Linked DNA regions of Homo sapiens. The protein of the gene in region 3 interacts with the protein of the main gene of each other region in a biochemical or structural test. Each region holds a gene or a part of one and is shown on either strand. Other genes may lie near its edges.

What was found.
Region 1: the proteins of CHD3 (region 3) and SENP1 form a complex in vitro, tested with the Homo sapiens proteins (one study listed by BioGRID).
Region 2: the proteins of CHD3 (region 3) and ZBED1 form a complex in vitro, tested with the Homo sapiens proteins (one study listed by BioGRID).
Region 4: the proteins of CHD3 (region 3) and MYB form a complex in vitro, tested with the Homo sapiens proteins (one study listed by BioGRID).

Annotation. Positions count from the first base shown.
Region 1 is NC_000012.12:48,095,924-48,103,243, forward strand, and holds part of SENP1 (sentrin-specific protease 1), read right to left. Parts: intron 5,594-7,320; coding exon of another isoform or gene 5,550-5,593; coding exon 5,546-5,549; intron 3,232-5,545; coding exon of another isoform or gene 3,139-3,231; intron 2,215-3,138; exon of another isoform or gene 2,202-2,214; coding exon 2,071-2,201; intron 505-2,070; coding exon 420-504; intron 1-419. UniProt on the Homo sapiens protein: Protease that catalyzes two essential functions in the SUMO pathway.
Region 2 is NC_000023.11:2,497,798-2,506,028, reverse strand, and holds the start of ZBED1 (E3 SUMO-protein ligase ZBED1), read left to right. Parts: upstream 1-5,052; 5' UTR 5,053-5,103; coding exon of another isoform or gene 5,104-5,212; intron 5,213-5,403; exon of another isoform or gene 5,404-5,718; intron 5,719-8,231. Other genes in the region: DHRSX (polyprenol dehydrogenase), read left to right, coding at 5,104-5,212.
Region 3 is NC_000017.11:7,905,486-7,912,805, reverse strand, and holds the end of CHD3 (chromodomain-helicase-DNA-binding protein 3), read right to left. Parts: intron 7,186-7,320; coding exon 7,100-7,185; intron 6,951-7,099; coding exon 6,817-6,950; intron 6,684-6,816; exon of another isoform or gene 6,546-6,683; intron 6,254-6,545; coding exon 6,109-6,253; intron 5,938-6,108; coding exon 5,775-5,937; intron 5,681-5,774; coding exon 5,559-5,680; intron 5,454-5,558; coding exon 5,318-5,453; intron 5,206-5,317; coding exon 5,104-5,205; intron 4,916-5,103; coding exon of another isoform or gene 4,913-4,915; coding exon 4,787-4,912; intron 4,405-4,786; coding exon 4,296-4,404; intron 4,110-4,295; coding exon 3,977-4,109; intron 3,664-3,976; coding exon 3,468-3,663; coding exon of another isoform or gene 3,422-3,467; intron 2,379-3,421; coding exon 2,215-2,378; intron 1,960-2,214; coding exon 1,833-1,959; intron 1,343-1,832; coding exon 1,221-1,342; coding exon of another isoform or gene 1,102-1,220; 3' UTR 51-1,101; downstream 1-50.
Region 4 is NC_000006.12:135,184,042-135,191,361, reverse strand, and holds part of MYB (transcriptional activator Myb), read right to left. Parts: intron 5,460-7,320; coding exon 5,342-5,459; intron 3,529-5,341; coding exon 3,457-3,528; intron 1,572-3,456; coding exon 1,479-1,571; intron 1,236-1,478; coding exon 1,015-1,235; intron 1-1,014. UniProt on the Homo sapiens protein: Transcriptional activator; DNA-binding protein that specifically recognize the sequence 5'-YAAC[GT]G-3'. Plays an important role in the control of proliferation and differentiation of hematopoietic progenitor cells.

The DNA.
Region 1 (7,320 bases), on a different chromosome or scaffold from region 3:
AGAAGGACAAGCTCAGGAAGAAATAAATTTTCAGGTTTCATGGTTTCAAGCAGAACAGAAATAAACTTGCTCTGTGATTTAAATTAACGCAAAACAAACACCCTTTACACACATCACATACACATATTCCCAAAAAAAGGTCAAAAACAAAGTTGTATTGCTTTTTACAATGGCATAATGGACAGTTAGATTCTCAAAACACTTTCCCACTAGAAAACCAGTATTTGGATGAGACAAAATCAGTAAAGTATCATAGCAACCACATACACAGGAAAAGCCATTCAAATGATGTTTTAGTGAAGAAAATACCATCTTGTTTTTGACAATGTTTTTACTTTTGGAGATGATAAACATAAACGATATGCTATCAAGAAATCCAAAAGGTATAAAGTCCCTTGACTCCAAGTAATGTGTCATACCTGAGTAATAGCTTGGATTATAAGCTGCACTTCTTGTGGAACATGTAAAAGATCGGTCCAAATGTCCTTGCCTGGAAGATAAAATCTAAACAAAGCAGAAGATTTTTCTTAAGTCACATTTTTTTTTTTTTTGAGACAGTCTCACTCTTGTTGCCCAGGCTGGAGTACACCGGCACAATCTCTGCTCACTGCAACCTCCGCCTCCTGAGTTCAAGTGATTCTCCTGCCTCAGCCTCCTGAGTAGCTGGGATTACAGGCACGCGCCATCACACCTGGCTAATTTTTGTATTTTTAGTAGAGACGGGGTTTCACCATGTTGGCCAGGCTGGTCTTGAACTCCTGACCTCAGGTGATCCGCCCACCTCGGCCTCCCAAAATGCTGGGATTACAGGCGTGAGCCACCGCGCCCGGCCATGTCACTTTTTTAACAATAAAATAAAAACATATACTAGGAAAAATATATAATTAAACAAGACTATAAGCCAGGTGCAGTGGCTCATGCCTATAATCTCAGCACTTTGCAAAGCCGAGGCAGAAGAATCACTTGAACCCAGGACTTCAAGACTAGCAATGGACAACATGGAGAGACCCCGTCTCTAAATAAAGACTATAGCAGAACTAAGACTATTTCAGAACTCAATATAATTATATTTATATATTATACGTATTAATACTACATACTAACAAGAAAGGAAAACACATAGACAATCTAATGAAATAATTCAGGCTTCAAGGAAAAAAACAGGCAAAATATTTGTTATACAATTTAATTCAAAGAATGTTCACTAGAAGGTAAATATGTATTTAGTACATCCTGTCTGAAAGCCATTTATAACACATATTAAAAAGGTTGAGAAAAATCAATCTGGTTTTGGTTCTTTTGATAACTTTACAGAGATAGCTCTTAATCAGAGGTGGTGCTATACCCTGAGTACATATCTGGAAATGTGTGGATATATATTAACTATTAAAATGATTATGGGGGGAGGTGGATGTTACAGGAATTTAGTGCCTAGGGCTCATGGATGCTAAACATCCTACTATAATTAGGAAAGATTCACACATCAAAGAATGATCTCATCCAAATTACTAATGGCTTTCCTATTGAAAAAGACTGCTTAATAGTGCTCCCCACACTTTCATGTGCATATAAATCAAATGAGGATGTTTTTAAAATATAAATTCTGATTCAGTGATATGAGGTAAAGCCTGAGAGTCTGCATTTCTATCAAGCTCCCAAGTAATGTTGATGCTGCTGGTCCCGAACTAGACCTTGAGAAATCAGGCATTATAGCACAGACATCTTAGAGCTGCTGTATATTTTCACATTTCTCCCCCATTTAATGCTCAGCAATTTTAGGTGCTAGTTTAAAAGAACACTGATCTGCATATAAGTAATTTTAAAATTCAGAGGAACAATGAGTTTTCTAAAACGTACTGTTCTCAAAGAACTCATACATAGCCTATTTTGTCTTAACGTCCTTGTCTTAATTTTAATATATAGAGCAGAATTCCAAACACTAAAATTACTGATTCTAAAAAGTTTATAGCTATGCTTGTATTTTTGAGTGTGGCATTTAAACTACATAAGATGAAAACTTATGATGAGCCCAAATAATTAATTAATTAAAGGAAGAAAATTGCTCCTAACCTGCTGGTCAGAAAGCGAAAGCTGGTCCTCTGGAAAACCTGTTTGTGGCAGGAGGTGGGTTTTGAATACGGAGTTGTGGTTCACTAAAGTCACTTCTCCAGCATCCATCCTCATCCTATCAGCAATATCATCTGGGGAGACAGTCTGGATTAGTTCAAGTCACATAATTCTTCAATAACGTTTTTCCTATGAACCAATCTTTTCACCTAATAAAAACAATTCCCACCCAGGCATGGTGTCTCATGCCTGTAATCCCAGCACTCTGAGAGGCTGAGGCAGGAGGATTTTTTTGAGGCCAAAAGTTCAAGATCTATCTAGGCAACATAGTAAGACCCTGTCTCTACAAAAAAATTTAAAAATTAGCCAGCAGGTCAGGTGTGGTGGCTCACACCTGTAATCCCAGCACTTTGGGAGGTTGAGGCGGGTGGATCACGGGGTCAGGAGTTCAAGACCAGCCTGGCCAACATGGTGAAACCCTGTCTCTACCAGAAATACAAAAATTAGCCAGGCATGGTGGCGGGTACCTGTAATCCCAGCTACTCGGGAGGCTGAGGCAGGAGAATTGCTTGACCCTGGGAGGCAGAGGTTGCAGTGGGCCAAGATCGTGCCACTGCACTCCAGCCTGGGCAACAAGAGCAAAACTCCATCTCAAAAAAAAAAAAAAAAAGTTAGCCAGCCAATGTGGCACGTGTCTGTAGCCTCAACCACTTGGGAAGCTGAGGCAGGAGGACTGTTTTGAGCCCATGAGTTCAAATTTACAGTGAGCTATCATCACACCACTGCACTCCAGCCTGGGGGACAGAGGGAGACCCTATGTCTAACAATAATAATAAAAAAAGACAAAAAAGAACTTGAAGAACAACTCTGCAATAAAATAAAATCCCTCTTTCATAGCTAACCAATGGCAAAAATCTCATATTGTCATTGTCAAAAGAGGTCCATGTGCAGAAATTGGCTCATTTGGAATTAATTGAGGCCATCTACCAAACAGTTCAAAACTTGTACACATATAAAAACAGCTTAATTTAAAGCTTTAAAAATAACGAGACCAGGCAAGGTGGCTCACACCTGTAATACTAGCACTTTGGGAGGCTGAGGCAGACGAATGGCTTGAGCCCAGGAGTTCGAGACCAGCCTGGGAAATAAGGCAAAATCTTGTCTCTATTAAAAAACAAAACAAAACATTAGCCAGACATGGTGGTGCATGCCTGTAGTCCCAGCTACTCAGGAGGCCGACCTGGAAGGATACTCTGAGCCCGGGGAGGTCAAGGCTGCAGTGAGCCATGACAGAGTCACTGCACTCCAGCCTGGGTGACAGAGTGAGACCCTGTCTCAGAAAACAACAACAACAACAACAAAGAAAAACACAAACAAAAAACAAAAATGCTCCCAAAAGAAACTTTTTAAATATTTTAACTATAGAAAAAATTTTAAATATAAAAAAATTGGGGGAAAAAATTCACCATTCAGTAACACACACTGTTAACACTGGTTCATTTCCTGTTTTAACACAAAGAAGTGCTTTAAGAAGTAATCCACCTGCCAGGTGTGGTGGCTCACACCTGTAATCCCAGCACTCTGGGAGGCTGAGGTGGGCGGATCACTTACTTGAGGCCAGGAGTTTGAGACCAGCCTGGCTAACATGGCAAAACCCCATCTCTACTAAAAATACACCAGGCATAGTGGCACATGCCTGTAATCCTAGCTACTTGGAGGCTGAAGCATGAGAATCGCTTGAACCCAAGGCAGAGGATGGAGTGAGCCAAGATAACACCACTGCACTCCAGCCTAGGCAAGAGAGTGAGACCCTGTCTCTAATAATAATAATAATCTGCCTGAACATTTTTTTAAAAGCATAATTTTATTCATATTGCTCTTAACAGGTATCAGCTCAATAACTATAATATTATGGCAGAATTTTACTTCAGAACCATTTTTGATACCTTTGTTACTATAGAAGAGCTAGAATAGAAGCAATAAACGTAACAGAATTCAACGACTTACACTGCTATCAGCAATGAGAGAAAATGGAAACAAATGAACAGGGAAGGAGAAGGCAGACTAAGGAAAAGGAAAACACAGAATAGAGAGAAAGCTAATGTGAATGTAAAAGGAACATATGGGATGTTATAAGACCTAAGTGTATAGATTTTTCAACTTATTCCTAAATTAGCTACTAGTCCTGACCTTATATTGATCCCCTTAACAGACATAAAGTACTACAAATGAAATAGTGAAAAATGTCCTAACCACAATTCTCAGTAACACTAGCTAAATGAAATAGAATATTTACATTAATCAAATTATTTATCATTTAGAAGTAGTATAACATAGTACTAAGGAACAAGAACTCTTGGCTGGGCGCAGTGGCTCACCCCTGTAATCTCAGCACTGTGGGAGGCCAAGGCAGGCGGATCACGTGAGGTCAGGAGTTCAAGACCAGCCTGGCCAACATGGCGAAACCCCATCTCTACCGAAAATACAAAAATTAGCCGGACTTGGCGGCGCACGCATGTTTGTAATCCCAGCTACCTGGGAGGCTGAGACAGGGGGATTGCTTGAACCCAGGAGGCAGAGGTTGCAGTGAGCTGAGATCATACCACTACACTCCAGCCTGGGTGACAGAGCGAGACTCCGTCTCAAAAGAAAAAAGAGAAAAAAAAAAAAAGAACGAGAACTCTAGAAAACTCTAGAACCAGAGTGCCTAGGTTTAAATCCTGGCTCAGCCAGTTATAGTACATGACTCTAGGCGAGCTTCTTAACTTCTGTGTCTCAGTTTCCTTGTGATATAATAGGGATAACAACAGTAACCTACTTGGTAGGTACTATTAGGTACCCTTGTAAGATGGTTATAAGGATTAAATGAACCAATATATTTTAAATACTTAGAACAGGGTCTAGTACACAGTAAATGTTTGCTAGGGTATACTTAACTTTTTCAATACAATCAATGAGATAATACTCCTAAATGAGCATATAAACAATGTTCTAACCAAAAGATAATTATGTGGGCTGGGTGCGGTGGCTCATGCCTGTAATCCCAGCACTTTGAGAGGCTGAGGTGGGCCGATCACCTGAGGTCAGGGGTTTGAGACCAGCCTGGCCAACATGGCGAAACCCCGTCTCTACTAAAAATACGAAAATCAGCCGGACGTGGTGGCACATGCCTGTAATCCCAGCTACTTGGGAGGCTGAGGCAGGAGAATTGCTTGAACCCAGGAGACAGAGGTTGCAGTGAGCTGAGATTGTGCTACTGCACTCCAGCCTGGGTGACAGAGCAAGACTACGTTTCAAAAATAGCAATAATAATAATTTTGTTTGGTATATAGTATTACATAATTAGGATTAAAATTTCTCTTAAAATTATTATTAAGCACAAAGATACAAATACTGAAAATGTTAGGAAAACCCATTCTTTCACTACAGCTTAACCAATGAAAGTAGCTAAAAGGATTCAACAGCTAGTTAGTCTTACCCATTTCAAGTCTTTTCACATCACTGACTTTAGCAAAGATACAAAGTCCTATAAAAGAAGACACAAAACAGAAAAATTACATACTGAAACACCTACTTCACTTAATTTTAGAAGGTGCAGCCACTAGAAGTGACATTTGTTTGTGTTCTTAGTGGAGAAAAATCTAAGGTGGTAAAGAGTTGACTTGATGGGAAAAGAGTAAAAACTAAAACTAGCTTGAGGTACTTCCAAACATTTCTGCAACCTGTACTACATTAAACAGCAATTACAGACTACGCACAGAATCACAGAATATTAAAGCAAGAAGCAAATTGGGAGCGCCAACCCTTAAGAGACTGAGTGGTTTGCATAAAGTCATAATGTTAGCAACTACACCGAAATTATAACCTAGAAATTCTTCCCAATCCATTGTTCTATTACCTCATGCTAAATCACTTCATAAACAAGTGACAGACTTTGTGATGGTCCTATTAAGACTTTTCTTCCATGTCTTACTCAGTAGCCTGATACTCTAATGACAATCAAGAACTACTCTGGAGTAATACAAAGTACTTCCCCCAACATCATCAATCAAACTGCTACAAACCAAAGCCCCTTTGCCTATATAAAAATTACTGTCTCCTCTGATGTATCCACTTTTTCCACAAAATAAAGATGTTAAAAACCAAACTGCTGGCCGGGTGCAGTGGCTCACGCCTGTAATCCCAACACTTTGGGAGGCCGAGGAGGGCAGATCACTTGGCCAAGGAGGTCAAGACTTGGAGGCCAGCCTGGCCAACATGGTGAAAACCCATCTCTACTAAAAATACAACAATTAGCCAGGTGTGGTGATACGTGCCTGTAATCCCAGCTATTCAGGAGGCTGAGACAGAAGAATTGCTTGAACCCAGGAAGCAGAGGTTGCAGTAAGCCGAGATCATGCCACTGCACTCCAGCCTGGGCGACAGAGCAAGACTCTGTCTCAAAAAAAAAAAAAAAAAAAAAAACCAAACACAAAAACACAACCAAACTGCTTGGAACTAGGTTAATAAACATATCCTCGGCACATATGGTCTTGGTAGATTTCCAAGAGGAGGAGGCTACTAGGGATGGTAATAGTCACACCTATATATATTTATAATCTTATAACCATATTTTTAAAAAATATTAAGCACTTCATCAACCACATAGCAATACTAGGGCTTCAATGTATTCATGAGGCTGGATGATGATAATAGGCATTCTTTGTGGTCACAATAATGAAAGTCACACAAAGGAAGGCAGCTTAAAGTTTTCTTGGCGTACGAGACCACGCCACTGGCCACTGCACTCCAGCCTGGGCGACAGGGCGAGACTCCGTCTCAAAAAAAAAAAAAAAAAAAAGTTTTCTTGGCATAGCTATAGACTAAGCAGAGTAATTATCTGATTACCTAGTCTTGCCAGGAAGGATCCCTAAAGAATTTAAGCCTTAGATTTATGCTTCAAATATATTTCCAAATGCTCAACTTAAAAGGCTTCTTTACTAAAAATTCTTCAGGTTATTCTTTCCCCTTCTTTCTTCTTTAATAGAGTAGACTCCCTTGGGTTCCAGATTAAGGGGGAAAAAATCTTATCAACTAATATATTAGCAACACTTTTTTGACATTTTAAAGTTGCTTCATAATTGTCATTACTAGCCTTTTTAAAATTATTATTAAGAAGAATGCCAACTTAAAAGCTTGGTGCCCAACAGAATAATCCCATGTCAATTTCCTTGCATTTTGTTGGGATAGATGTGAAGAGAAAAGGAAGCTAGA
Region 2 (8,231 bases), on a different chromosome or scaffold from region 3:
CAGCTCCATGTGACTGGGGAGGCCTCACGATCATGGCAGAAGGTGAAAAGCACGTTTTATATGGCTGCAGACAAGACAGAGAGAGCCAAGCGAAAGGGATTTCCCCTTATAAAACCATCAGATTGCTGGGCACGGTGGCTCACGCCTGTAATCCTAGCACTTTGGGAGGCCAAGGTGGGTGGATCAGCTGAGGTCAGGAGTTCGAGACCAGCCTGGCCAACATGGTGAAACCCCATCTCTACTAAAAATACAAAAAATTAGCCAGGCATGGTGGCACAAGCCTGTAATCCCAGCTACTCGCAAGGCTGATGCAGGAGAATCTCTTGAACCGGGGGGCAGAGGTTGCAGTGAGCCGAGATCCTGCCATTGCACTCCAGCCTGGGCAACAAGAGTGAAACTCTGTCTCAAAACAAAACAAAACAAAACAAAAATAACAAATAAAAAAAAACCCCATCAGATCTCATGAGACTTATTCACTGCCATGAGAACAGTGTGCGAGAAACCGCCCCCATGACTCAGTTATCTCCCACTGGGTCCCTCCCACAACACATGAGAATTATGGGAGCTACAATTCAAGATGAGATTTGGGAGGGGACACAGCGAAACCATATCAGTGACCTTGAGCAAGTGACCCGGTTGAGCCCGTTTTTGGGACATCTTACCTGCAGACTTGAGATAATAACTTTGTGTTGTTTAAAGCTGCTACATTCGTGGCCATTTATTACAGCAGTGGCTAAAAACATTCACATGGAAATCAAAGTCAATATATGACAGATGATGAAATGAGCCTCTGAGAAGATAAGTGGGTTGTGGGGAAGGTAGGGGTGTCTCCCAAACCATTGCTGGAAGCACCAGGTGATGCATTCTGCTTTTAGCCCCCCAATTCATGGCTCTAGACGTCACTATCCTTTTGCTCACAAACATCCTTTTAGATAACTACCAGAAGTCCCCAAAGGGAGGAGCATGTCGGGCTACAATAAGCCCACTCCCCTGCTGCTCCTGGTGGAATCCTTGGTCCTTCTGAATTTGGCAGTGGGGTCACGGTTTCACACCCCATGCAACGGCAGCTCTCCTGGGAAAACTTTAAGGTGGGGACAGGGGTGACTGTGGATTTTCCCAATGCTTCTGGCTGGGTGCCCTGGCCACACCTAGGCATACCTGGTCACACCTGAGGATACCTGGGCACGCCTCAGGATATCTGGACACATGGCCAAACGAGAAAGCTTCAGTTTTCTCATCTGTAGGACAGAAGGTTGCAAAGGCTGGAATAACCTTTTTTTTTTTTTGAGATGGAGTTTCCCTCTTGTTGCCCAGGCTAGAGTGCAATGGAGCAATCTCGGCTCACTGCAACCTCCGCCTCCTGGGTTCAAGCAATTCTCCTGCCTCAGCCTCCTGAGTAGCTGGGATTACAGGCATGCGCCATTATTTCCAGCTAATTTTGTATTTTTAGTAGAGACAGAGTTTCTCCATGTTGGCCAGGCTGGTCTCGAACTCCCGACCTCAGGTGATCTGCCCGCCTTGGCCCCCCAAAGTGCTGGGATTACAGGCGTGAGTCACTGTGCCTGGAGAAGCCCTCTTTTTTAATTTAATTTTTTTATATAAAAATAATAAAGACAGGTTTTGTTATGTTGCCCAGGCAGGTCTCGAACGCCTGGGCTCAAGCAATCCACCCTTCTCAGCCTCCCAAAGTGCTGGGATTGTGCGCGTGAGGCGCTGCACCTGGCCCACAAGGAGCCTTCTTAATCCAACCTGGTTACTGAATCACACCTGAGCATACCTGGCGACACCTGAGCATACTTGGGCACATGTGAAGATACCTGGCACACTTGGCCAAATGGGACAGCCCCATCCCTTGGTCTTCCTGGCCTCAGTTTCCTCATCTGTAGGACAGAGGGTTGCAAAGGCCACAAAGACCCTTCTTAACCCAGCTTGGTCACCTGGCCACACCTGAGGTCGCCGGGTAGGTCTCTGTATTCCAATCATCTTAGATCTGCACCAGAGCCCACCCAGTGGCTGGGTGCAACCTGCACACTGGGGGTGCCCCTTAGTGCCTGTTGAGGTTCTGTGGGGAGTGAGGCCTGGAGGGTTCAATTCCTATGGGAGTGGGGATGCATCCCAATGGGGGCCAAAGTTCCAGATAGGTTGTGGCCCTGCAAGGTGCCAGGGTCCCAGTGAGATGTGGAGTGTGGGGTTCTGGCTCCCAGCAGGGATAGAGTTCCTGGCTAGGGTCAGGTGACTTGCTGGTGGAGATTCTCACTCCTGGACCTCGGCAGGGGCTGGGGGGTGCCCATCGGCACGTGTATGAGGGTGCAGACCTAGAGTGAAGGTGGAGGTCTGGGTCCTGGGGATGATAGGGTTGGTGATTTAGGGTCCCAGTGTTGCAGGAGAGGGGTCCCGATCTAGCCCCCAAGAGTGGGTTCTTGGATATTGCTCAAGAAGTAATTCAAGGTAAGTCATAAGAGTACAGGGAAGTTTTAGTTTATTAGAAACTATTCCATTACATGCTGGGTGTGGTGGCTCATACCTGTAATCCCAGCACTTTGGGCGGCCGAGGTGGGCAGATTACCTGAGGTCAGGAGTTTGAGACCAGCCAGGCCAACATGGTGAAATCCCATCTCTATTAAAAATACGAAAATTATTTGGGTGTGCTGGTGCATGCCTGTAATCCCAGCTACCAGGGAGGCTGAGAGAGGAGACTCTCTTGAATCTGGGAGGTGGAGGTTGCAGTGAGCTGAGGTTGCGCCACTGCACTCCAGCCTAGGCCACAGAGCCAGACTCTGTCTCAAAAAAAAAAAAAAAGAAAAAGAAAGAAAGAAAAAAAAAGAAACTGTTTTGTCATAGAGGTGTAACACCTTGTGTTTGTTTTAAAGCTTCCTTCTATAGGGGTCTGTCTTATCTATGTAAAAGCTAGGTTATGTCTGACGGCGTGACATTTATTCCTTAGTTGATTTAGAGAGAGCCATCCTTTGCATTTTCGCGCCCAAGCACGTCCATGCATGACTGTAATTATCTTTAACAGCATATGTGGTTACGCGATATGGCGACATCCAGACATTCCGCTGTCGTCTGTGTTTGTCCTTGGAGGCATTATTAAGTCATTTCTTCAGCCGTAAACATCTTATGACCATGGGCCGTGACCGGCAAGGAATGTGTCTTCCTGGTTTTTAAGATGGAGTTGATGATTAAAATGGTGTCACCCCAGCTCTCCCAGGCTCCTGTCTCCCAAACACAGCGGGTGTTAGGATCTGTGTGGAGTCCCGGATGCCAGGTCTGGGGTCCCCTGGGGGACCAGGTGTGGGACTGGGAGGGTTGTGGTGGGGTGAAGGTCTGAGTGTCTGGGTGGGGGGTTCCATGAAGAATTCCAGTAGGAGTCTGCTGGGGGGTCCATGTGGGATTTCAGCCTTGGCCCTGGTAAGGGTCTGGGTGGGGGTTCTGTGCTGGTCTGGGGTTCCCTGAGGGAGCCCAGGTAACTCTGTGGTTGTCTGGGGTTCCCAACCAAGGTCTGAGTAGGGGTCTGCTGTCCCAGTAGGGATCAGGGTGGGGAGGGGGCTCGTGGTCCCTGAAGTAGTCTGGAGTTCTCTGCAGGGGCCGGGAAGGGGGTCTGTGATCCCTGCAGGGTTGTTGGGGGCAGGGAAGTGGAGGGGTAGGTTTGGTGGGTGGTGTCTGTGGCCTGGCAGGAATTGGGGTGGGGTCTGTGGTCTCAGTAGGAACTGGGGTGTGGGGTCCGTGCTTGGGGCAGGTTCTGTGGTGTCAGCAGGAACTGGGGTGTGGGGTCCGTGCTTGGGGCAGGTTCTGTGGTGTCAGTACGAATTAGGGTGTGGGGTCCATGGTCCTTACAGCTGTTCAGAGTCCTCTGTGGGAGTCCTGGTCCATAATCCTGGCATGGCTCTGGGTGGTTGTCTGGGGTTCCCTATGGGGTCCAAGTCCTTGTGGTCCCTGCTGAGGTCTGCGTGGGGTTACATGATTCTGGCTAAGATGGGGAGGGTGGTTCCCGTGGTGGTCCTGGTCCCCTGCAGGGTCTGGGTAGGGGATCTGTGATCCCATGGTGGGGGTCCTGGCTGGGGCTTGAATGGGGTTCCATGGTCTTGGCTGGAGTGTGGGGTCTTGGAGAGGCAGTCCAGCTGGGGTCTGTAGTCCTGGGGGGCGTCCTGGCAGGGGTCTGTGGTCTTGTGGGGTGCTGGCTGGGGCCTGTGGTCCGGGGGGTGGTTGTGATGGAGGTGGAGGTCCTAGAAGGGGGCCCCAGTAGGGGTCTGTGATCCTGGAGAGGGGTCCTGGTGGTGGGGGTCCCAGTGGAGGTCTGTGGTCCTGGGGGGCCCTGGGAGGATCTGTGGTACTGGGGAGTCCTGGTGGAGGTCTGTAGTCCTGGTGGGGTTCTTGGTGGGGTGTCTGGGCGTGCCCCAGTGGGGGGGCCTGTGGTCTTGGGGGTCCCAGCAGGGGTCTGGGGTCCTGGGGGGTGTTCTTGGGAGGAGTCTATGGATCTGACTTGGGTGCTGGCTGGGGTCTGTAGTCCTGGGGGCGTCCTGGCTGGGGCTGTTGGTCTTGTGGTGGTGGGGATCCCTGCTGGGGTCTGCAGTCCTGCCGGGAGGGGGAAGGGTCCCTGCTGGGGTCTGTGGTCCTGGAGGAGGTGTGGAGGGTCCCTGCTGGGGTCTGTGGTCCTGGGGGGGATTCCTGGCTGGGGTCTGTGGTCCTGGCTGGGGGTGTGTGTGGGGGGTCCCTGCTGGGGTCTGTGGTCCTGAAGGGGGGGTCCTGACTGGGGTCAGTGGTCCTGGGGGCGTCCTGGCTGGGGTCTGTGGTCCTGGGGGGGGGGGTCCTGGCTGAAGTCTATGGTCCTTGCAGGGGGGGGTTCCTGGCTGGAGTCTGTGGTCCTGGGGGGGGTGTCCTGGCTGGGGTCGGTTGTCCGCTCGGGGTCCCCAGTCCTGCAGGCGGTGCGGGATCCCAGAGGGCCCGGGCGGGGTCTGGGGTTGGGGGTTCCCCGCAGGCCGGGGCGGTTCGGGGCGGGCAGGGGGCGGTCCGGGGCGCGCGCGTTTCCGCCGTCCGTCCGGGCGGGCGGGCGCAGAGTCCCGCGGGCGGCGCGGAAGCGGCGGCGGCGCGGCCGGGGCAGCCATGTCGCCATTGTCTGCGGCGCGGGCGGCCCTGCGGGTCTACGCGGTAGGCGCCGCGGTGATCCTGGCGCAGCTGCTGCGGCGCTGCCGCGGGGGCTTCCTGGAGCCAGGTCAGCGGGGCGGGGCAGGGGTCAGGGCTCCGGGGACCCGGGTGGGCGCGGGCTGGCTCGGGGGCGGGGGCGCGGGGGCTCCGCGTGACCTTGGCGAGGCGGTGGCGCTCCCGGAAGTGGGGCTGGGCGGGGGTCGAGGTGTGGCCGGGGGTGGGGGGGGGGCGGCGTGCGCGCTGGGACCTCCCCGCCCCGCGCTTTCCGTCCCCGCCGGCTCTTCTGCGCGCCTGGCCCGGCCCGACCCGGCCCGACCCTTCCCTCCCCGCGCGTGTGGCCTCCCCGCCTGTCCCGGGTCGGGCTCCAACCAAGCAGCCCCCGTGCAGCCGCCCCCCCGCGCACCCTGACACCTCCGGGCCATGGCCGGGGACCCGGGGGCTCGCACGCCCCGCGCCCAAGACATCAGGCGGCTCTGCCTGCCGCCTGCGGTCGGCCAGTGACCGCGCGCCCCCGCCAGGCCCCGGAGGGGAGGAGCGGGCGTCCCAGGGACCTCGACCCCTACCCACCCCAGGGTAAGTGAGGATGGGCCCTTCTCCGGAGGACGTCTCCAGAGGGGGCCCAGAGGCGGCTTCTCGGGCACTGGGGAGCCACGGAGGTCTGGTGGGGAGGGCAGGCCCGTTAAGTGGCAACTTTGTTTCCTTGGCCTTTGTAAACATCTCTGAGTCACAGATCTCCAACTTTGCAGGACTCGTTCACTGTCTGAACTCATCAGTGATGACCGCCACTGTGTTTTGTGTATGCAGATAACTTCTGTTCCTAGATTTGCAGGTTCAGAATTTATTATTATTATTATTTTTTGTAATAGGAAGTAGAGATGAAGTCTTGCTCTGTTGCCGAGGCTACTCTCGAACTCCTGGGCTCAAGCAGTCCTCCTGCCTCAGCCTCCCAAAGTGCTGGCATTACAGGCACCAGCTACTGCATCCGACTAATGTTTTAAAGTTTTGTAGACGGGGTCTTGCTATGTTGCTCAGGCTGGTCTCGAACTCCTGGGCTCAAGCGATCTTCCTTCCTTTGCCTCCCAAACTGTTGGGATTACAGGTGTGAGCCACCACACCTGTCTAATGTTTTAATTTTTTTGTGTAGCAATAGGGTCTTGCTACGTTGCCCAGGCTGGTCTGAAACTCATGGGCCGAAGCAATCCTCCTACCTGGGTCCCCCAAAGTGCTGGGTTTACAGGCGTGAGCCACCACGCCTGGCTAATGTTTTAAATTTTTTGTAGAGATGGCATCTCACCATGTTGCCCAGGCTGGTCTTGAACCCCTGGCCTGCAGCAATCCTCCAGTCTGGGCCTCCCAAACTGCTGGGATTACAGACAGAGCGCCACTGTGCCCAGCCCATATTCTCAATTTAAACCTAGAAACCTGTAAACAATTATTTGTGAACTGGAATAAAGGGAATGTTAATTCCATGTTAGGTTAAATGATACTTTGTTTCAAAAATAACAGTTTTCCAAAACAGAGCGTTCAGAGGGTCAGTGTGGTGGGGGTGGGGGTGTACGTTGCCCTGAATGTCTTAAATGTCCAGCCTAAGAAGAGAGCTGTTATTTCTGCCTCTGTAGACAGTTTCATGGCATGTCAGGAGGCCTCTGGAAGACACTACTGCACGCCTCTGGGAGACTGGGAGTCAGCCAGGCGAAGCGCTTGGGTGCCTTATTGTGAAATGACTTTTGACTTCCACTCTGCACCCACTGAAGGAATCCCAGGGGTCCCAGCGCCACCCTTTGAGAAGCGTGCCTGGAGTGGATGTTTTAAAATGAGCCTCTCTCTCCCGCCTCTAGCCAGAGAAAAAGAGCTTTGAGTTTTCTGTGAGCTAAGCTTTTCTTTTTCTGCCAAACTGGCCTTCAGTATTTTTTTTTAAACCCACTTAGCATAATTACAAATGCATAGAAGAAGGAGAGTAAAGGGAACTGTAGTCAGGCTTTCGGAGGGCAGGAGAGCATGTTTGTTTGAAGTAAGTAATCAGTTGCAAGGTGAACGGTTTACAGCTGCTGAACAATTGTGTGGAGTCTCGCAGAAGATTATGTTTATCCGGGCAGTTTTGCTTACAGAAAGGTCCCCTTAAACCTCCTTAAGGGCCTGTGTGGGCCCTGGCAGAAGAGGCCGGGGTTCCTGCAGCAGCTCACCAAAATGCTGGCCTTTGAAAAACTTGCTCTTTGTGCATTAGAAAAAGGGCTGGAATCTTTTTTTTTTTTTTTTTTCCCATTTACTGATTAAACAACAACAGAAGGTTGTTAAAGAGGACGAGCTTCTGGTGAAGTCACGTGTCTGCCAAGGGAATCTGTACCCGGGTGTGTATCGAAACAGAATGGCCTTCTCTAAAGATTAACTTAAGTGGCTTGCCCTCATCGAGCCCCTTCCTATGTATGGATTAAAAATAATTTTCGATACCAGTGGAGGAATGCTGTTGTCCTTGGTCTGCTGGTGGCCAGCTTCCTAAACGGCATTTTTTATTTGCTTCTCTCTGGTAGGCCTTCGCTGTTGGTGAGGAAACATTGAACTTTGTCCAGGGCATTTGAGCTAAGCTGTTTGAATAACCAAGAGGGCCAATTTCCCCACTGCAGATTGGAAGCAAGGGCAGTTTTTTCTTAGAACTTCCAAATGGAGCGTGTTCTTCTTAGGTATCGTACAAAGGAAATGCCTGGGTTACACCTTCCACATGAGTTGACTTACATGGTATGAGAAGGAAGAAATTGTGGCTGGAATCCACTCCTAAATGGTGTCTTCTTACAGTTCATCATGGAAAAACAAGATAATTACAAATTAATCATAGATGTTGGTCATGCCTTTACAGAGGGGGTTTAGAAGCAAATTGAGAATTCCCATAAGAGGGTCTGTCTCTGTGTTCTTAAGACTATATCCATGCGGCCCATTCAGTAAGTTGTATCTGTTGGTTGGATTTTAAAATAGATGATTTAATCAGTGCATTTAATATCCTAATATGGCATCAAAACTTGAACATTGATATGGCCTGAAATCTGTTGAAAATGATCATATTGAGTAAAGAAAGTCTCTACCCACCGGTATTA
Region 3 (7,320 bases):
TCCCTCCCCCCAAAAACTCCCCCCCCCCATAAAAAATAACAGAGCACACAGAAAGGAAAGTATAATTTATATGTACAACCAATAAACCTGATACAGAAGAGGGGATCAGGACAGACCAGGAGTGGGTGTGAAGAGAGACTGGGAAAGGGGCAGCAAGAAAGTGAAGGGGCAGCAAAGAGGAAGTGGGGGGTTCGCCATGCAAACTGCCACTCTCCCCGGCCCCTCCTGGGAGGGGGGATGTGCCCACATTTCCCTAGCCTGCCCTCCACTATTTTGCTCTGGTCCCAACGACAAGGTAGCTCCCAAGACCCTGACTAGGTCCCCTGCCTGACTTATACAAATTTAGTCTGTATCCAGGCCTTGAGGAGGGAGGGTAGTAGAAGTCTTCCAGGAACCTGAGCCCCAGAGCTGGGCTTCCACCACATCTGGCCCATTGTATTCTCTCCCACCCTTCTAGGTTACCTGGGTCCCTAGAACAGGTTGGGGAGCTCCTCTTTGGCTTGAGGGAGTATCACCCAACCATTACTCTTTTTGTAGGGGTGGTCCTTGGTCCCTAGGGAGGGGGGAACATTCCCAACACAAGATGCCGGTACACAGGAGGTAACTGAGCCAGTGAACGGCACCTTTATTCTGAGGCTGAACAGCAGTTGACTTCCTCCCTCATAACTGCTCCACCCTCCACGTGGGGAGAGGTAGGGGACGGTAACATGCAGCCACCCCTCCTCGTCCCTTCCTCCCTCCCAGGGCTCATTTTCATCCCTCTCTAAAGTCCCCCTCCTCTCTTCAAAGCTCTCTTCCCCACAAAAGTTCCTAAAGGCCAGGCAAGGCTGATTCTCCACTTCCACATGAGACAGAGCTGATTCTGCAGGGAAACGGCTGGGGAGGCTCCACCTCTTTCCTCCCCACAACCATTTACTGGGAAGTTGTGTATACTTGGCAGTGTGGGAGGAAGGTACTTGGAAGACCCTGCCAGCCATCTCCCACCCAGACTTCTTCTCACCAGCACAGTCTTCAAGGCTTGGTGGGAAAGGTGTGTGGGAGTGGAGAAAGACAAAGGGCCCTTCTTGAAGAGAGGAGCTGCAGAGAGGGGCAAAGGGGTTCCTAGCCCAGTGATGGCCCAAGGGGTGGGGAAGGTGGAGGGCTGGCAGCAGGCCCCAGCGCTTGAGCTGGGGGTCGGCCTCGGGGACGGGGCCTGGGTGAAGGGCAGGCCTGGGATCCAGTCAGTCGTCTATACAGATCACCTCCCCGGCTCGGGGCTCCTTCCGATCCAGCCCGTCTGACACCAATGCCCCCACCATTTCCTTCTCCTTCTTCACAAGCACTGGAGGGCCGTTGGTGGCGGCTGTTTGGGAAAGGGGTAAGGAAAGATCAATCTCCAGATCACTCTCAAACGTCACTTCATGACAATGGTGAATTCTCACTTCTAGGTCACCTCCTGCCACTTCCCGTTGTCCCACGTGAGGGAGGGAAGACCCGGGCAAACCCCTTTCCCTGAGATTCCACTTTGTGCTACATGATTGAACACATGTTCCCACTCTCTAACCCCTCGGGTTTCATATTCACTTTCCCTTGAAGGAACCCGGAGGGAGGTGGCTCGGGTAGAAGACACCAAGCCACAGATCTACTAAAACTCTGGTTTTTAATAAAGGGGACTGAAGAGGGGTTAAGAAAGGGATGGGTGGGGGGACAGCCTAGAACAACTCTATCCCATAAAACACCGGATACCACCAAGGAAATGAGATGGACTAGAGCAGTTAAAGGGCAGCTGAGCAGAAATAAAGTTTGGCAAAGGAGGAGTGTGAGTAGCAGGGGGTAGGAAAACACCAGCTGACCTGTGATGAAGGACCCTGCAGGCATCTGGCTGTAATTGGCGCCTGCGGCGGCCAGGGCCCCTACGGGTGCGGCGCTGAAGGCCGCCCCGTACCCCGGAGGTGTAGCGTAGGGACCCGGCGGGTAGGCCTGGAACAGAGAGGAAGCAGAAGTTGGAGTTAGTTCATAGTCTGTGAGAGGAAAGAAGCTGTAGGAGAGACATTATGAGCCACACTCCACAACTGCTAAGGGTAGGATACACAGGCAGGGAGACTCACTCAAGGGTGATGACTGTGTTCTAGCAAGTTGTTTTTCCATATTGTATAGGATTCTGATGGAAGTGTTTGTATGTGTGCAGGAGGAACACAAACAGGGAAAACTGGAGCTAGGGGGAAAGAGGGTTACCGGTGTGGGGTGAGGCTCCGTGCCCTTGCTGGCCAGCCGGCTGAGGATGCTGCGCTCGGACATCTGAAGGCGGGCTGCGATGGGGGGTATTCGGGACAGCGTGGCTGGCAGGCGGGTCACGTCCGCCTTCATGTCGCTCAGCAACTCCTCCAGCTGGTTCAGAACTGGGGCCCGGGCCACAGAGAAAGAAGGGCAAGAGAAAGACAGGGAAATACAGAGATGGAGCCAGGAAAAGAGAGGCATCAGATGGACAGATACAGGCAGAAAAAGAGCGAGAGAGGAGAACACAGATGTCAAAGAACCAGAGATCAAGAAAGTAAAAGAAGTAGATGGAAAACAGAAGCAACTCAGGGGAAAAGAAAAAGTGTCAGGAAAAGAGACAGAGAGACCAGATTACCACAGAAGACAGATGGAGAGAAAGAAGAAAGAAAAAGGGAGCATGGAGGAAAGGAAGATGGGGGGACATTGGAAGACATGGGGGCGGGGAGTTGTCAGAACATCTCATACTGGAAGAGCAAGGTTTGGGGTTGGGGATGATGGGGAGGAAATAGTCAGGAGGCATGGGAGGTGGTAAGTGTCAAAGCTTTAAGGAATCACGGTTTTAATATGTAAGGGGAGAGGGAGGTTAGAAGGTCAGTATTACAGATTCAAGGAATTAGAACAGGGATCAAAGGGGCCAGGAGTCAGTGACTACACCAGGCAGGATTAGATGGTTAGAGGGCTTTGGGATATAATCTCTATCAATGGCAAGGTGAGAGGGGGTAGGAGGAAAGGTCGAAGGTCAAAGGGAAGTTTCATGGGGTAAGGCCAGAGGGTTGGATGGGTGGTAGTTTCTGCCTTATGGGGTGAAACACATGTGAGGGAATGTGATTTGTTTGATCACAGCCAGGGATCTGTATGGTGCATTCACAGTCCAAGGCCCCTAACTGGATGATGTTAAGCAGTATGGCAGGCATGCAGTTCCACTGCCAGTGAAGAGGCCCCACTGTGTGGAGGGGACACAGAGGCTGGGGCAGGTCCCTCTATTGGGCACGGATGTGAATGCTATCAGACATGGATGAGGGTTGGCTTGCACAAGTCCTAGAGGCTAAAATCCAAGGGGGTGCCAGGTCGGTAGGAGTGGGGTTAGAGGTCAGAGGGGGATGGTTCAGCAGGTAGAGGGGTCAGGGGGTGGGAAGATTTTGAGGGGTGCGGGGTGAAGACTTACGCAGCGTTGTGGGCCCTCCCCCGCGCGGGGCCGCCGCGGCCCTTACCCTTGTGCAGGACGGCGTTGGCCGGCTTGTTCCCCGCCAGCGACTCCTTGGAGAGGTGCTGGTGGCTCTCGGCCAGGCACTCGGCCTCGGCGAAGCGGGCGTGGAGGGCCATGGCGGGGTGCGCCGGCTCCTGCGACAGGTTCAGGTAGGCCGCCCGCCGCAGCTGCTCCTCAATCACCAGCGCCTGCTCCAGGAGCTGAGGGCACAGAGTTGGGAGGTGAAGGTAGGGCTCTGCCAGCAGTGGGTGAGGGGCTGGGGGGGCGGACATAGCAAGAGACCCACCCTGCCCTCACTGCTGGCCCAGGGCACTCCCAGCTCCAAACCGACTGCGAACCTAGCAGCAACCCTGACCCAGATCACACTCCCAAGCACAAGGTTACACTTTGGTCTTGGCCCCAGGTATCACCTCAGCCCTGAAGGTGTTAACCTTCCCTAGGTTCCAACTAGATCTGGTCTCACTTCTGACCCAAGCCCGTCTATAACCCGCTCCTTTCCTCCCTCATTCCCACCTTGAACCTCCGGGCCAGGAACTTATTTTTCATCTCCAGAAAGTTCCCCTTATTGGCTTCAGTTTTAAATGGCTCGTTGATAATGGCAAATTGAGCATCATTCTGGATGTCCTGCCACCGTGCATAGCCATGGCTACCAATGAAGGAAAAGGAACCATCAAGGAATTTAACAGGAATGGGCTTGGCTTTGAACACTTCTTCCTTTTGGCTTGACTCCCCAAAGTGTGGCACTAGCCCTGTCCCTGGGTGTGAAATCATCTTTTTTTTTTTTGCCAGCTTGAGAGAACCTTTTCCTTCTTGCATGTGTATCAAAGGATACAGGACAATCCCAGCCAGAAGCCAATAGTCATGTCTTCTGTGCCAGATCTCATTGAGTTTCCCCGAGGAAATAGCTGCCCGTTCCTCATTCTGCCACAGTGTGTGAAGCTCTGCAAAGAAGGCAGCAGACAGAAGAGGTAACAGGGTTTTGCAGACTGCACTCAGTCCAACAGACAGGTAGAGATGGAGAAACTGAATAATGAAAGGGAACTAAGGGCTCCTGAAGAGGAATGGGTAAAGGTTAGGTTTGGAACAAACTCAGTTCTAACCAGGTTCGTTAGAATTAAGAATAAAGGTGGGATTAGGGCCAGCTTTGGAGTTAAGAGGGATACTTAAGAAAGATTTAGAGCAAGGATCGGAGTCAGCATGCAACATACTTCATTGGAAGTTACTTGGAATTAAAGGTAGCAGGAAGCCTCAGGCAAAACGAGAAACCCCATGAGGATGAGCAGATCCCCTTGAGGAGCAGAAAGCAGCGAGAGTCTCCCCAACCTGTGAAGCCACCATCGGCGATATTGAACATGAACCGGGGCTTCTCTGTCTTTTCCTCTCGTCGCCCATTGGACCGTGGCTCATCTCGAGGCCCTGGTCGAAGCTCCCGGTCACCTTTTACATCTTCTGCTAGGACAGACAGGTCAAAGCTCACACCTCAGGACACCCTCCTCCCAGGTCCCAAGACTACTATCTGTACTGTACTGTACTGGCCTTTCAAACAGCTACCCGCCCAGGACCCAAGCATTCGGTTCCCCAGACTCCACCTCCCCTGATGCCCTCTGGGACCCAGGTGTCCGGTCCCTTCCACCCATTACCTCTCTTGCCCAAATCCCCTGTTTCCCCCTCCGGCCTCTCCCTGTGTTCCTGTCCATCCAACGGCTTCTCCTCCCCCCTTTCTCCTGGCGTCGACTCTGTGGCTGTGGGAGGGGGTAGGGGATAGGAAGGGAGGATGTTACCCTCATCCCCTGACCCCAGAAGAGGGAAATCCCAAATTCTAATCCCCCATCACTCCTAAGGCCATGCACCCACCTGACTTCTCTCTGTCCCCACGGTACCCAGGTTCAGGCTCCATCTCTCCAGGCACCCCTGGCACCTCATCCTCTAGAGGAATCTTCCTTGGCTCCAGCCGCTCCCCAAGTGATGGGGCTGGGCTGGGGGCATCAGCCTGGAAGAGGACAATGGGGTCAGGATGAGCCAGAGGGCTCCCAGGTACCTGGCCTCCAAGCCCCCTCCCCTCCCGCTCCACAGGGGAATCCAGGGAGCCACACACCTCTGTCTCCATCTTCTCCCCAATTCTGCTGTTCTTCTCTGGCTTTTCCTCCTGGTTTTCAGCTTCCTCCTTCTCAAGAGGTGTCCTTATGCCTTCTCCTTTCTCACTTGGAGCTGGAGTAGCTGCAGGGGAAGGCACAGTGATAAAGACAGAGATTCTCCCGCCCTGACTCCTGGCTCCCTTTCTGTCTCTCCCACCATCCTGACTTCTGATTACCAGGTTTAGAGGTGCAGGGACTGTTGGTAGCAGAAGCCTCAGGAGTGGTGGGAGACGTTTTGGTAGGAGAGGAGGCTCTGGAGGAGCGCTTAGAATCGGCGCTGGGGTCAGGCATCAGTTCCGGCATTGACCAACGCCCATTGATGTGCTCAAACTCCTGCACCTGGGGTGGCAGGGTGGGAGGGTTAGGTGTCAGCTCCAGGCGCTTACAGACAGGAAGCTCCAGTCTCCTCCGTCTCACACCAGCGCAAGCTTACAACTCAGGGACAGAGGCAGAGGAAGGACAGAGACTAGGCAGCCAGCTTGATTCTTTGGGTGACAGGAAGACTGATACCTTCTTTTTGACGAGAGACATGACTCCAATGCGGGTCAACACCTGCTGGCGACTCAGTCCCTCCCGAGGGACCCCATCGGCAAAGGTTTCAGAGCCGTCTGCCCCAGGCTCACACAGATGGCGCATGAACAAAGACACATAGGCCCTAAGGAGCATGGGAGTGGGAGGAGGGTTAGGGGAGCCACAGAAGGGGTATAGGGCAGTGAGGGAGGCGCGAGGATGACTGAGGACCCCCAAACCCCCAAATCCCCAGGTGCTCCAGGGCTCCTCCCCTGGGCCTCTCACTCTCACCATTACCAGCCCTCCAAGTCCTAACTGTCCCCCTGCGCCCCACCCCTGGGTCTTTCCCTTTGGCCTTGGTACTTAATTCCTGGGCCCCATCAGTCAGCTCTTCATCCTTTCCACCAGCTCCTCCTGCCAGGTTATTGTGGTCAAGTAAATGTGAGGCTAGGACAGCCCAGGAGAGGCTCCTTGCTTCAACGCCCCTCCCCTGGGGAGGATGCCTGGCCCCTCTACTCTAGGCTCGGCTGAGGGGAGGTGGAGTGGGCTGAGACCACCCCCCAGGAAATCGAGCCAGGAAGTATTGTATGACAGGGAGGGTGATAATCAGTTGAGTAAGGTCACATCATATGGCGGCCCCAAGGAAGAAAGGAACACCCAAAGCTCTTCCCCTTGCGTCCAACTCAGCCCTGTATCACCCACACTCACTTAAACTCCTTCTCAGTCTTGCCCCTCAGGTCCCGCACCAGCCACTGTGTGGTGAAGGCATCCTGTGGTGGCATCCCCCAGCGCATCACAGCATTGAGGAAAGCCTTCCGCTGACGGGTGTTGAAGCCCAGCACCTGAGGGTGGGAGCAAGGAGGCAATGGCGACAAATGTCTAGGGTTCTTAGGTCTTGTCCTTTCTACCTTCAGTGATCCAGGCACCAACTTCCAACCTCCTGCCCTCATGCCCTCTTGGAGAACTCAGGAACACTGGGCCCAGCTCTCACCTCAATGTTGCCCCCGACTCGGGCCAGCAGTGGAGGCAGTGGCTTATCTTTCTCATTCCGGAGCTGCCTCTTTGACTGTCTACGCCCTGAGGGTGGGGATGACATCAGTTAGCTGAGCCACCACCTCCTCTAAGCCTCAGTCCTCCTTAGCACCCCATTCCCACAAGATACACAACACAGGAACATTCCTGTCACGTTTGAGGTGCTCCCAATTCTCTCCC
Region 4 (7,320 bases), on a different chromosome or scaffold from region 3:
AATGCAAGATTTATCATTAAAAGTATTGCTTTCCAAAGGAACAAAATCTGTTATATACTACTTAAGTGGGAAAAATGGGACAAAATGAGCTTCCATAGTTATCCCTCATAATGAGGTCATTTTCTTGCCTTGTTCATTAAAAAGAAAGCATTATTACCCTGACATTATTTAAAAACCTGGAAGTAGTATGAGAATTCAAGAAATACATTATTTCTTTAATCAATGAAGTAAAAAATTAAGCAAAGTGGTATAATGAAATGAATACTGGTGGCCAGGTATGGTGGCCCATGCCTATAATCCCAGCACTTTGGGAGGTGAAAGGATTGTTTGAGGCCAGGAGTTTGATACCAGCCTGGGTAACATAGCAGGATTCCATCTCTACAAAAAATATTTTAAAATCAGCTGGGTGTAGTGGGGTGCACCTGTAGTCCTAGCTACTCAAGAAGCTGAGGTGGGAGGATCCCTTGAGCCCAGGAGTTCAAGGATGTATTGAGCTATGATCATGCCACTGCACTCTGTCACTCATGTGTGACAGAACAAGCCTCTGTCTCTAAAAAATAATAATTAAAAAAAATAAAAGAAATGAATGATGGTTATCAGGAAAATGGTAGCTGAGTTCCTTTGAGTAACTTAACCAGCTACGTGAACTGCCAGAGACAAACTGTCTTCAGTTTCTTTCTATGCATTTAGAGTTTTATAGTTTACCAAGTCCTTTGACATTCATTTTACTTGATCCTAACACTGGCCCTGTATGATTCATTTTGGAAATGGGGAAATTGAGGCTGGGGAAAGCTAAATGTCTTCACCCAGGGCTCACTGTCAGGTGGATCCTGGAAGTTCTCAACCAAATAAACTCTAAGATGTCTTCAATCTCTAAAAGCTATGTAGCTGGTTTATCTAATAAAACACTTACGACTGATGAAATATAATTTACTCACCATACATTTAAAGCAGAATGTTCAATACCCACTCCCTCATTCTTCCCGATCAATATATTTTTTGACATATTATTACCGTCCAGGCAGTAGCTTTGCGATTTCTGCCCATCTGTTCCCCAGTCTCTTGTGTGCCTGGTAAATAATTCTGTCTTCCTCTTCTGTCCAGGAGGTTTTCTTAACTTCTGGATTCAAGTGGTTATGCCACCTCTCCCTACATTGTTTTCCAATTCTCCCCTTTAAGTGCTTGGCAATAACAGACCAACGTTTCGGACCGTATTTCTGTACAAGCTCTATCACCTTCAGATAAACACACAAAAATAACCTATGTTTTAAAGTTATGTAATGAGTCAGTATAATCATTCTTCAGTGTTACAAGATCTTTAGAAAATTTCCAAAATTTGCTTTCATTCACTGGAAATATGGGAATAGAGTCCTCTACTTCCTGTTTGCCCATTTTACCTGCTTCCTCAAATAGGAAAATATTAGCATTTTGGGAATATTCTTAATTATGAGTCACACACCAATGAAGAAAGAACTTACTCTCTGATCTTCTTCTTTGGTCCAAGGACCCTTGATGAGCTCAGGGTTTAGTACTTTCTGCCATCGGTGCTGGCACTGCACATCTGTTCGATTCTAGACAAATAAAGTATGCACCACCATAAAGATATGATGTGATAAGCACGTGAATTTTTTGTTGTAATAGGAATCACACATAGACCATATGCAGTGAAAATATTTAAGAACATTTTAGAGCATGTTTAGAGCCCATCTATCCCTCATTACTTACAGGCTACAGAACATGCAAGTAATATATCAAAGTTGCATCTAAAATTAGACACTCTGCCTCCTGAGGGAAACATTCCTGCCACATGATCTAAAGGACCATCATACTACACATGTGCCTGCCAAGTTAACCTTAACCTCAGATACTTTTGCAGAGTATCTACATAGCCTGAGGCTTGATAGAGATTCTATGTTGTCAGGCTTTCATGGAAACCACCCTAAAAGACTAAAGTTTGCTTCCCATTCAGACAAGAGATGTGCTTCAATCCAGGACCAAAGTATTTATATTGCAGAAAGAAAAAAGATGCATAAAAGATAGGTCCTATGTTACAGGAGTTTGTAAACTTATAAGAAGGAAAAGACAAGTAGATGACTGACTATCACAGATGCTGAATTTGATTCACTTGGAAGAAAAGACCAAAGCAAAATGATACTGAAGTGAGGAGAGAAGCATCTTCTTAGGAGGAGAAATGGTTTCCTTGGGAGGAGTCTTGAAGAGCTCTTCATAAGGACTTTGAAGGATGGACAGAACTTTAATTGGTGACATAAAGGGAGAATATTCTAGGAGGTGGGAAGACCAGGAGCAAAAGCCCAGAGGAGGTAAAGCAGAAATAAATTCAAGCAAACCTGCTTAGAGAGAGGAAGCAGGAAACAGAACTGGAGCTGTAAGTTGGGGCAATAGAGGAGGGCCTCTGTGTGCCAAGTCAAGGCAGTTTACTTAATTTGTGAGATTCTGTCACTGTGGTTGGTTTTGAAAAGATAAGGTACAGCTGCATTTTAGGAAGTTCCACCTGCCAATGGTGTTTGGGATGAATGGAAAAGTAGAAGACTGGCTGGGCACGGTGGCTCATGCCTGCAATCCTAGCACTTCGGGAGGCTGAGGTGGGCAGATCACTTGAGGTCAGGAGTTTGGGACCAGCCTGATCAATATGGTGAAACCTTGTCTCTACTAAAAATACAAAAATTAGCCAGGCATGGTGGCGGGCACCTGTGATCCCATCTACTAAGGGGGCTGAGGCACGAGAATCGCTTGAACCTGGGAGGCGGAGGTTGCAGTGAGCTGAGATCGTGCCACTGCACTCCAGCCTGGGCAACAAAGCTAGATTCCATCTCAAAAAACAAAAAACAAAAAACAAAAAAAAAAAAAAGAAAGAAAAATGGAAAACTACAAGTGGGGAAGCCAGTTAGGAAGTTATATGATAGTCCAAATGAGAGGGCAGGAGCCCAACCTTCAGCACAGCCATGAGAATGAAAAGGACGGGACTGACTATAAAGGAATTCCAGGGTCCTTAGTAACTGCTTAGATGTAGGGGTTGGGGGAATGTGATAAGTCAAGAAAGGTCTTCAGAATTTTAAACCTTGGTGCCAAAAGTATTGCTATTGACAAAAATAGGGAATTCAGGAAAAACTGACTTGGAGGAAATATCAAGTTTAATCAACTACCATGTAACAAATCATCAAAATACTAATTATCCTATAAATGAAAAGATAAAACAAGAAGCAACTGTTTTTAAAATTTGATAATCTAAATTATAATAATCGATTCTAATAATCTAAATTCTAATAATTTAATTATATGCATTATAATATAAAATATAAGTTATGGGTAGGGCATTTCTCCCACTTCTTAAATGTGAGTAAATTATACACTATCTTAATAACTCCTCCTAGAATATTTTATAGAAATCTTTGGGAGAAGCTTTCCTTTCGTTATAAGAAAAACTTACTAACTTACCGGGAGATAATTGGCAATAACTTTCCAGTCATCTGTTCCATTCTGTTCCACCAGCTTCTTCAGTTTTTCATCCTAAGACATTTAAAGGTAATCCTAGGATATCAGTTATTTACTATATAACTCTGTTCAAGTTAAAGTGAATGAGGGAACGAATCTAGAATAAAAAGTCTCTCTAAAGTATCCGAATACAGGAGATATTAATGTAATATACGGACTTGGGAGTATAGATTTATTTAGAATCAGACCAGAGTTGGCATCTTGACTCAACTATTAATTGTGTAAAGCGGGTATACCATTTTACCTTTCTGGGCCTTAGTATTGCCATCTATAAAATGGAAATTAACAGGGTTATTTGGGGATTACATGGGGCAATTTATTAACATGAGGCTGATATTAACAGGGTTATTTGGGGATTACATGAGGCAATTTTGCAAAACATTTATCATAATGCCTGGCATATATTGAGTGTTTATTATAAATAACTGCTTTACTCTGTTAGGAAAAAATGCATTCCAGTGCTAGATTCAGTACACATTTACCTATGGTAATAAATAGGATCTTGAGCAAGAAATAGAATATTTCCAGTTAGTTTAACTTTTTATAAAGAAATAAAGACCATTTTTAAAATTAAATTTGAAAGCTATATAAGAAAATCAGTTAGATTTAGATAGGCCAGATGTGTTAGAACATAAAAGACATTAAACATTTCCAGCTAATCAGTTCTTTTAGTTTATATGCTGTTCACAATCCTACCAGTTCATAAGTATATAAATGCATTCCTTCTTATGTTTCTGCAAAGGTAACATTCACACACAGTGGAGGTCCCTGGTACAATACAGACACAAGAATTAGGAAACCAATGTTGACAACAGAATTTCCGTATCATAAGGATTATCCAAGTGGATAATCTTAATAGGTAAAATATGAATTTCCTATGGGCCTCTCTGGGAATCCTACCTGCCTGTTAAAAGGAGCTCTGGTTTAAATGAAGCAGAGAACAGTGAAACTGAAGAAGAGCCAATACCATTTATTGTAACATGAATCATCTAAAATTAGTTGCAAAAATTTTAAGAACATTAGAGAAACTTTTCTCCACATATTAATAATTTTGCTTCTAAAATATTTTTCCATTCCTACAAAATCAAACTTTTGATAAGCCAGCCGAAAAAGAAACAGGAGAAGCAGATGTGTCTCCATCCATTATCGGATGATTTTAAAACATACCTTCATATAGATGGCTCTGTTAAGTATATCAAGGATATTAAATCAATACACTGTAAAAAGATGAGTTCTCTGAGTGTTTTGTTTTATTCTTTTGTTTGTTTTGTTTTTGGGAGTAGCAAGTCATTCACTTATTGAGAGAACATTTATTAATATCCTATTTTGGGTCCAAGCATTTGTGAATTCAGGAAACACAAAGATGAATAGACAAGAGCCCTGCCCTCAACAGACTTGCAGTCAGCTGGAGGAGGTATATATGTCCCAGCAACAATAAAGTAGAACATGCACCCATGCATGGGATCACAGGAGGATGCATCCAATCCTGTCCGGCGAAGCCAGGGATGGCTTCACAGAAGAGGTGATGCCTTCATGGGTAATGTAAAAGTAGGAAGAAGAGGTGGGACAAAAGGATGAGAACTCAACAGGCAAAAGGAAACACAGATGAAGCCTAAAATGAGAAGAGGACATTCAAAGAACTGCAAATAGTGTGGAAATGGATAATATAATGAAGTGGGGGGCATAGGGCACGCTGCACATGCGGGCTAGGATAAGATCTCAAGGAGCCTGCTAATGAGCTTGAGCACCTGTAGTTTAGTTGAAATTTTGTTTTTTATAAATTATACACTCTATCTATTTTCTGCGTCTTGATAAAATGATTAGTTACCTCTTCCCGGGTCCACCTTGTTTTCCCCAAGTGACGCTTTCCAGACTTGGGAAGCAGCCCATCATAGTCATGGTCACACATCTCAAAGTCCTCATCATCCTCGTCACTGCTATATATGCTGCAGAAATAAGAATGGGTAGACGTGGGCTGAAACAAGAGGATTTAGACTACTACTGGATTACAAAACTTACACAAAACTCCTCAACAATCTTTTCAAAGGTTATGAAGACAAAACTTTGAAAACTTGCACAACAAGATTGTTTGCTGCATTCTGTTGCTCTAGTATTGTAAACTGGTTCTGCTGTTATGGGTATCCACAGACACGGCCAAGGACCTGGCACCTTCCTATTCCCCTGCATGTCTGAACCTGCTGTTACTATTAGACCAGGGACAAGTTACACATTTGGCCACCTTCCAACCAGTGAAGGTTTAAGTTGAAAACTTAAGGTTAAGGATAAGAAAAGGAACAAGAACCCATGTCCTTTATATAAGTGCACACTCAAAATCTTTGGCATCTGTCACATCGTTTAAATAATATTTCTCAAACATAATAAACAATTCAACTATGCTATTCCAATGGGGTTTTTGTTTTATTAAAAGAAGAAAAAAATCAAGAAGTAGTACAGCGCAAAACAGAATTATAGTGATCCCATAAAGTCTAGAGGATTAGGAGAATCTAAGAGGAAAGGATTTTAAAACCAAAGCAAAGATAAGAACATTGAGTGATCAAGCTTTAATGTTTTGTAAATAAAATTAATACCAAATTGCTCACAACTCCAGGCCTGGTTGATCCAACTTGTGCCCATGTTTACAATACTTAGTTTCTAGAGTAACTAAGTGAATAATTAGGCCACTTGTTAGTCAGAGTCTTACTTACTCTTGTTTTTTCTGTCTCTGATGGAATGGTGTTTGAAATATTATAAAATGTAACCTAATCCAGAAGGGATTTCCCCAGAAAAAAGCCATGGATTTAAAAGAACCCATTACTATTTTCGAAAGCTTTTTCTTTTATTTAGTTAACCTAACCTAGGAAATTTTATGACTTTTGAAGAAGTAACTATATGCTTACTGTTTGTTAATCATAATCATAATGTTTGTTAATCTAATCAACTGATCAGATGACAATAATTTTACAGACACGGTTTATTTTATAGTTTTTCTTATAAAACTTAAAATAGGAAAAATACTATCTTAGAAACTTCACTAAAATTTGTCATTGCAATGTTGGGAAACCCATTAAACTAAGACCAATAAAAACAATGATATAAAGCCATATCATAATGTAAATCATTGTTTTTAAAAAGAAAAGTTATATTCATTACAGGTTTTGTCTTCCCAAACTAACTCACTGGTATGCATATTACCAGCCCCCTACAAGTGAAGCTGAAGTGCTTACCAAAAATCCTGAATTGGGGGTTCTCATAATTTAAAGCTATTATTTTAAGCAACAATCTGATAGTCCAGGTTGAATGGCGACATGATGTAATCCAAATTTAAAATACCACCACCACCAAATAAAATCCCAGGAAATATATATTTATAATCTGTAATAATTCCTTTCATTTAGTGTCTGTGTTTTGAAACAATAGCCTAGTTCTGTTTCCACTGTCAACAGGAGGCACTAAACAACTTCTGAACAAGAACTACAAAAATGTAAAACACGATATGATAAAGCAAAAAAAAAAAAAAAAAAAAAAAGCTATAAAGCCCAGAGGTGTAAGTCTGCATCTTTTGAAAGATTCATAGGGAACTCCTTGGAAAGACCCCAAATGCAGTCCCTTGTGAAATGTGAGAGACACCAAGAAAACCAGAGGAATCTGAAACTGCAGTCATAGATTCAAGTCGAATTAACTTTTCAGGTTTGGCTGGATCTAGAGGTCACATTTTCAGAACTGAGCACATTTTTCAGAGTAGTCATTGAGCACCTCTCTCTCCGCAGCGGTTTAACAACCCAGGAACAAGCAACCTATTCAGCCGCC